2 linked regions of the Homo sapiens genome follow. The protein of the gene in region 2 purifies or fractionates together with the protein of the main gene of each other region. This does not show direct contact. Each region holds a gene or a part of one and is shown on either strand. Other genes may lie near its edges. The genes, in order: MPI and CAPN9.

Region 1 (3,815 bases), on a different chromosome or scaffold from region 2:
TAAGCAGCCAACAGTCGAAAGGTGGCATCCTTCCATGGCAACATGCATATTTTAGTGTAAAAATCCCTGGTAGGTAGGACAGACATACAAAGGCTGTGACAGAACAACAGCTTTGATCCAATATAGCCTGCGTTCAAATTGTGGTTCCCACACTGACTGGCAGGACTTAAAATCAGAGTAGCATGGCATCACAGGGTTGGTGTCAGGATTCAAGGCGTGTTCAATGCTAAATGCATTCATCATCCCTACCAGCTGTTGCTTGCTGAGCCCAGGAACCCTCAGAGGTCAGAGCTGCAAGGTCCTTGGGGGTCTCCTTGACCACCCTTCTCCTTCCTTTGTCCAGATAGGGAAACAGGGCCCAGCAGGGATGGCAGTGGGGCTCACTGCTGAAATGTGGCTCACCTCCTTTCAGGTAGGCATGGGGTACGTTGGCCTCCAGAAACATGGCCTCCCCAGGCTTCAGGGTAAGCAGGTTCAGGAAGTAGATGGCAAAGCAGCCGATATCACCTGGGTACTGCTGGTGCAGCTGTAGCAAAAGCTCCCCAAAGATGTCCTCCATGTTGTTTCCGGCAGCCGCTGAGGGTCACAGAGCACCCCAAGGTCACTTAGGGGGATACTCAGTGCTGTTCATAGCCCCACATTGGCCAGGGAGTCCTAGGAAAAGGTCCCTGCCACAGGAATCCAGAAGCCAAAGTGGCCCTGTCCTTCTGGCCACGCCTCCAGCCCTTTGGGGGTCGAGCCTTGCTTGATACTCCAGTCCATACAAATACCATCTTTCATCATATCTTGACTATTCATATGCCCAGGACTATACTAGCCACTAAAAGAGCTAGAGTATGGTCCTTTCAGGATGGGATTTCTCAGCCTTGGCGCTACTGACATTTGGGCTAGGTAATTCTTTATTGTGGGGGCTGTCCTGTGTACTGATGGATGTGTAGCAGCTTCCCTGGCCTCCACCCACAAGATGCCACTAGCAACCCCTATCTGGGTTTTGACAATCAAAAAATGGCTCCAGACAACAGCCAAATGTCCCCTGTATGAGAACCACTGCCCTTGGAGCTCAAAATCTAGGGAGATAACGCAAAAGAGTTTCATGAAGGGTAACCAACATGCCCGAGCTTTCCCTTTTTTTTTTTTGAGACGGGGTCTCGCTGTCACCCAGGCTGGAGTGCAGTGGCACGATCATACCTCACTGCAGCCTCAACTGTCCAGGACCAAGCAATCCTCCTACCTCAGCCTCCTGAGTAGCGAGAACCACACGTGCATGCCACCATGCCCGGCTAAGTTTTTTATTATTTGCAGAGAGAGGGGGTCGCTATATTGCCCAGGCTGGTCTCGAACTCCTGAACTCAAGGGATCCTCCCACCTAGGCCTCCCAAAGTGCTGGGAATACAGGTGTGAGCCACCGCACCCGGCGACTTTCTAGTTTTTAGCACTGAAAGTTCTGTGTCTCAGCTGGGCGCGGTGGCTCACACCTGTCATCTCAGGACTTTGGGAGGCCAAGGCAGGCGGATCACGAGGTCAGGAGTTCGAGACCAGTTTGACCAACATGGTGAAACCCCATCTCTACTAAAAATACAAAAAAAAAAAAAAAAAAAGCCAGGTGTGGTGGCACGTGCCTGTAATCCCAGCTACTCGGGAGGCTGAGACAGGAGAATCGCTTGAACCCGGGAGGCGGAGGTTGCAGTGATCGAGATTGCACCACTGCACTCCAGCCTGGGTGACACAGCGAGACTCCGTCTCAAAAAAAAAAAAGAAAGTTCTATGTCTCAGAGAATCTCTCTCGGTCTGCTCCAGAGAGCATGAGGCAGAATGCGCTGAGGGCCAAAATGTGTCCTGGAAACGACAAGGGAAAATGAGCTCAGCCTGGGTAGAGTGGCAAGGGTGGACTTCTTTAATTTTTAAATTTTTTTTCTTTTTCTTTTTCTTTTTTTTTTTTCCGAATCGGAGTCTTGCTCTGTCTCCCAGGCTGAAGTGCAGTGGTGCAATCTAGACTCACTGCAACCTCCACCTCCTGGGTTCAAGTGATTCTTGCGCCTCAGCCTCCTGAGTAGCTGGGATTACAGGCACACACCACCATGCCCAGCATTTTTTTTTTTTTTTTGAGACAGAGTCTCACTCTATTGCCCCGGCTGAAGTGCAGTGGCATGATCTAGGCTCACCACAACCTCTGCCTCGCCTGGCTAATTTTTGTATCTTTAGTAGAGATGGGGTTCCACCATGTTGGCCAGGCTGGTCTTGAATTCCTGACCTCAAGTGATACGGCCGCCTCAACCTCCCAAAGTGTTAGGATTACAGGTGTGAGCCACCGTGCCCAGCCAGGCTTCTTTAAAGTGAGGCAAGGGGCCTGGCGTGGTGGCTCACACCTGTAATCCTAGCACTTTGGGAGGCTGAGGCAGGTGAATTGCCTGAGCTCAGGAGTTCGAGACCCGCCTAGGCAACATGGTGAAACTCCGTCTCTACTAAAATATAAAAACTTAACCAGATGTGGTGGCACATGCCTGTAATCCCAGCTACTCAGGAGGCTGAAGCAGGAGAATTGCTTGAACCCGGGAGGCAGAGGCTGCAGTGAGCCAAGATCGCACCACTGCACTCCAGCCTGGGGCAACAGAAAGAGACCACACACACACACACACACACACACACACACACACACACACACACACACACACACACACACACACACACTGAACAGAAAAAAATATGCTTGGGTCAAATAAATAATGCCCTAAGGCTCAAAGGTAATGGGAAACCTGTAGAGGTAAAATAAAAAGAGAGCTCTGGGCCACCTAGAGAAGGGGTTGTGGCTGCCAGGCTAAGAAGCTGAGACCTCATCGCCTGCACCACATAAGCTCATTGCTGGGAGTCTGTTCTGTTTTGGGTTTCTTACTGCTTGTGTTGACTCCCCACCTTTAGGGTGACAGTGACCACACCCATCACAGTCATTTCCTGAACTCTTCTTAGCACAAGGTTGGGCACACAGAAGGTAAAGGAAAGATCAAATGACTGAGTGCTGGAGGCATCAGTCCTTTCCAGGAGAGGGAGGATGCTCGTGTCCCCTTCCTGCCTCTTTAGCCCCGAGATACAAGTCCATCCATGGAGGGCAGCTGCAGGGCTAGGGAAAATCTCAGAATGCCTAGGTGGAAGGCATCCTAAGAGTCCTCTATGCCAGTCTGCCTCCAACCATCTGGAGAAGATGACCAGTTGGGAAGCAGCACTCAACTAAGAAGGGCCCTGCTCCACAAAGACTAGGCAAGCAATGCTAAGTTGCCAACAGGTCATCTAAGTGGGGCCCCTTTTAGTGTTCCACTTGGGCAAGGGGGTTGAGAACTGTCCCCAGAGTCTGGTGTCTGCTGGGAAGCCCAGGCCAGAGCATTGCACCCAACCAGGAATATAACTGTGTCCACCTTGCTGGGAGATCCGCTTCACCAACAGGTTGAGCTGTTCCACCACCACCTTCTTCTCACTCTTCATCAGGTGGGAGAAACAGCTCTGCAGAGAGGAGGCCACAGCCTGGGAGTCATGGCTCATGGTCTGCTTCAGGTGTGTTGCTGCCTCATCTCCAATCAGGAACTGAAACTCAGGCACCTCTACAGGAAGGCAAGGCCCAGGGCCCATATCAGGAATGGTAAGATGGAACCCACACAAGTGGGGAGTTGGAGGACACCTTTCCATCCCAGCCCTAACCAAAGAGCCGGCAATGCTAAGTAAACTTTGCAGTGGAAACCAATCACTCACCACCAGCCCTTGACTACCACACCTGAGCCTGGTCTCACTGGCCTGGCTCACTGGCTCCAAAAACTGCTTCATGAGGC
Region 2 (3,815 bases):
ACAAAATAATCTTTAGAATCAACCATCCACTAAGGTAAAATATAAGGTTGTAACTCCAAATATATGTTTATGCCAATGTGACAAACCAAAACTTTGAAAAACAAAGGAGCCAGTAGAATGATTTCCTATTGGATAGCAATGGAGGACTACGGGGTCGAGGGGAAGGGAGGCAGAGGAAGAGGGGGAGAGGTGGGCAGCGGCAGGGAGGATCTCCTGGAGAAGGACCACCTGAATGTAAACCTTTTGAAAAGTCTACATTGTATCTAGAATATGGCATACATGGGGGATTGGTTCCAGGACCCCTGTGTATACCAAAATCTGTGCATACTCAAGTCCCACAGTAAGCCCTGTGGAATCTGCCTATACCAAGTCAGCCCTCTGTATATGCGGGTTTCAAATCCTGGAATAGTATATTTTCTCCTTTCCTTCCTTCCTTCCTTCCTTCCTTCCTTCCTTCCTTCCTTCCTTCCTTCCTTCCATCCTCCCTCCCTCCCTTCCTCCCTCTCTCCCTTCCTTCTTTCCTTCCTTTTTTTCCTTTTTGTTTGTTTGAGACAGTGTCTTACTCTGTTGTCCAGGCTGGAGTGCAGTGGCATGATCTCAGCTCACTGCAGCCTCAACTTCCCAGGCTCAAGCAATCCTCCCATCTCAGCCTACCAAGTAGCTGGAACTATGGTCATGCACCACCAAGCCTGGCTAATTTTTCAATTTTAATTTTTAGTAGAGGCGAGCCCTCACTATGTTGCCCAGACTGGTCTTGAACTCCTCGGCTCAAGCGATTCTCCTGCCTCGGCCTCCCAAAGTGCTGGGATTACAAGTGTGAGCCATCACGCTCAGCCTGGAACACGGTATTTTCTGTCTGTGTTTGGTTGAAAAAAAATCCACTTAGAAGTGGTCCTGCACTGTTCAAACTCATGTTGTTAAAGGGTCAACTGTAATTCCGTCTATCATCCATCATCTATCTATACCCATCCATCCATGTATTTACCCACCTACCTTCCTATCATTATTTACTACCATCTATCTATTATTATATATTTATTTTGTATGGTCTATCAGTCAATCAATCAACCTATCAACCTATTTATCTATCTAATTATGCATCCGTTTTCTACCTATCATCTATTACTTATTATCTATGTTTCTATCTATCTATCCATTTGCTTCTCTCTCTCTCTCTCTCTCTCAATTGTCTCTCTGTCTAGCTAATTAACTAACATCAGTCTAGGTTTGTGACTTTGGATCTTGTGTTTAGGATAGCTCAGTTGCTCAGCATGGAGGTTCCAGCATGGCCTTTCTTAACCAATAGACCACAGTGACAACCTCAGCTAGAAATAAGTCAGGGTCCACACAAGCTTGCAGTGGTTTGTTCTCTAGGCTGATTTCACTGGTATTTTTTAAAAGAAAGTCTCTCGCTCTCTCACTTTCTCTGTCTTTCATAGATAGAACAAAGGTAAACCCAGCCCAGTTGGATTAAGTCCTAAAATGCAGGACCCAATTTGAGTGACTTGAGGTGCACTCAGGTTCATTGCAGGAGGGAGACTGGATTGCTGGGGAGCGGCTCCCCAGGGTGTGTATAATGGTTAGCAGTAAGGGCTCTGCTGCTGGAGTGTCTGGGTTCAAATCCTGATTGCCTGTCTACCACCTCTGTGACCTTGGACAAGTTACTTAGCCTTCCTCAGCCTCCATTTCCTCATCTGTGACGTTAGGAGGGTGGGTTGTGAAGATGGAATGAGGCAATGTGTGCTGGGGAGAGTACCTCGCAGGTGACTGAGTTCATGTGTGCAGGTGTTAGCTACTGTGGTGGTGTAGGAGAGCCCGACCAACGCTGCTGGGTGTCACTTTCCTCTGTAAACTCCGGGGCTGTGAGCCCCACATCACAGGCATGTCTGACTCTAGAGGAACGGAGGTGCAGGGGCTTGAGGCCACTGGACTCCATTCAGAGGGAGTGAGGAAGCAGAGGCCGAAGCAGTGTTGTTCCCCCAGCCCCGTGCCTCTTGGGTCCTCAGGGACCCCATGCTGCAGTTGCTTGCCTGTCCCAGTGACTCAACCTCCCTCTCGCCATGCTCCATCCACTTACACTCACCCAGCTCTCCCTGGCAGATATCAGTCCTGGTGGCCCCTCCAAGAATGAATTCTGGGTTTTTCACGATTTCCTGGAGGAATGAGAGTGTTATTAGGCTGAGGCCTGCCATGCTGCAAGCCACTATGAAAGGGTAGGCTCAGGGTCTCTCTGCTTTCTTGGGGCAGAGGGCTTTCCCTGTGCTTGATTCTTTTCCCTGAGGAGGGCCACGTGGATGTAAAAGGCTGCCACCTCTCTATGCTCTGGATAAGGCTGGGCTCATCTTTGGTAAATCTCCTCCGCCGGGGAGAGGTCCTGCCTCCTGAGCTGCACTCAGCACCAATCTCTGGCCAGAAACACAGGCCACACCCGGCCACAAAGCTGGACATCAGCCACACACTGAGGATTCCTGTGCTCACTCAGGCACTGGGCTAGGAGTCCAGGGCTATCCCAGCTGTGAGCTCTGTGACCTCTGTGGGCTTCAAGGAGCTGAGTAATGCATGTACCACAGGCTGGGGCCTTGGACTAAACATACTCCCTACCCACCCAGCTTCTCCATTTCTTTCTTTATATAATCCTTCCCCCACAAAGTGGATTCCAAATATATATAGGTTTAGAGACAGAATCTTGCTGTGTCACCCAGGCTGGAGTGCAGTGACATGATCATAGCTCACTACAGCCTTGACCTTCTGGGCTCAAGCAATCCTTCCACCTCAGCCTCCCAAGTAACTGGGACTACAGACGTGAGTCACCACGCCCAGCCACTTTTTAATTTTTTTTTTTTTTTTTTTGTGGAGATGGGGGTCTCGCTATGTTGCCCAGGCTGGTCTCAAACTCCTGGCCTCAAGTGATCCTCCCGCCTTGGATTCCCAAGGTATTGAGGTTACAGACACATGCCACCCTGCTCAGTGTTTCTTTTTACAGAGATGCGCTTAGGTAAAATTTCATGTATCTATACCATATAAAGAGAGATATGCACACATCTCTCATATTGTTTCACCGAAGTGCATTATATATATATTATTCTATATTACACATAAGCACATACACTATGTGTATTAATGTAATCATTAATACATATTAATATATACATATACAATATGGAGGGGTATTTATAAAACATGAACAAAAAAGTGTAGAAAGCAATCTTATGATATGCATATATTCTTCCACTCTTTGAGTTGCTGGGCTCCATTCCTGACATTGGACGACAACAAAGAGAGAGGGAAAGCCCCTGCCCTGGTGGAGCTGCCCTGGACGCGGAGGGCGGTGCTCTCGGAAGCCCCGCCCCTTCCCAGCCTCCTGCCCCGCCCCTCCCCCAGCCTGCCTCAGCCCTGGCCTCACCCACGGCGCCCACTGTGCCTGCAGCTGCCACCACCTCCCAGAAGCTGTTGTTTCGTTCAGGAGAGTTTTGCAAATTGCATTTGAGGAAGAGACAAACCATAAACCAGGAGAGAAAAGAGCGAGGATGGAGAGGGAAGGGGTGGGATGGGGCAAGGCTAGCTACAGCAGTCAGCAGGGGAGGCGTCTCTGGGGGAAGCAGAGGAGCACAGACCTAAACAAAGGGAGGGAGGGAGGGAGGGAGGGAGGAAGCCGGGCCGGTCTCGGGAGAGGTAACAGCCAATCCTGTGGCAGCGAGGCCCGTTCTGGCTCACCCTGCAGGGGTGGTGAGTTAACTGGGCCGGGGCCTGCAGAGGAGTGAAGGATTTTTCCCACCTCTTCCCACTTTTCCAGGCACCAGGACTGAGGAGGGGCC

Evidence for each region.
Region 1: the proteins of CAPN9 (region 2) and MPI fractionate together in Homo sapiens (co-fractionation; one large-scale study listed by BioGRID). This does not show direct contact.

What each region holds. Positions count from the first base shown.
Region 1 is NC_000015.10:74,892,913-74,896,727, reverse strand, and holds part of MPI (mannose-6-phosphate isomerase), read right to left. Parts: intron 3,591-3,815; coding exon 3,408-3,590; intron 577-3,407; coding exon 403-576; intron 1-402. UniProt on the Homo sapiens protein: Isomerase that catalyzes the interconversion of fructose-6-P and mannose-6-P and has a critical role in the supply of D-mannose derivatives required for many eukaryotic glycosylation reactions.
Region 2 is NC_000001.11:230,753,675-230,757,489, reverse strand, and holds part of CAPN9 (calpain-9), read right to left. Parts: intron 3,592-3,815; exon of another isoform or gene 3,404-3,591; intron 2,154-3,403; coding exon 2,084-2,153; intron 1-2,083. UniProt on the Homo sapiens protein: Calcium-regulated non-lysosomal thiol-protease.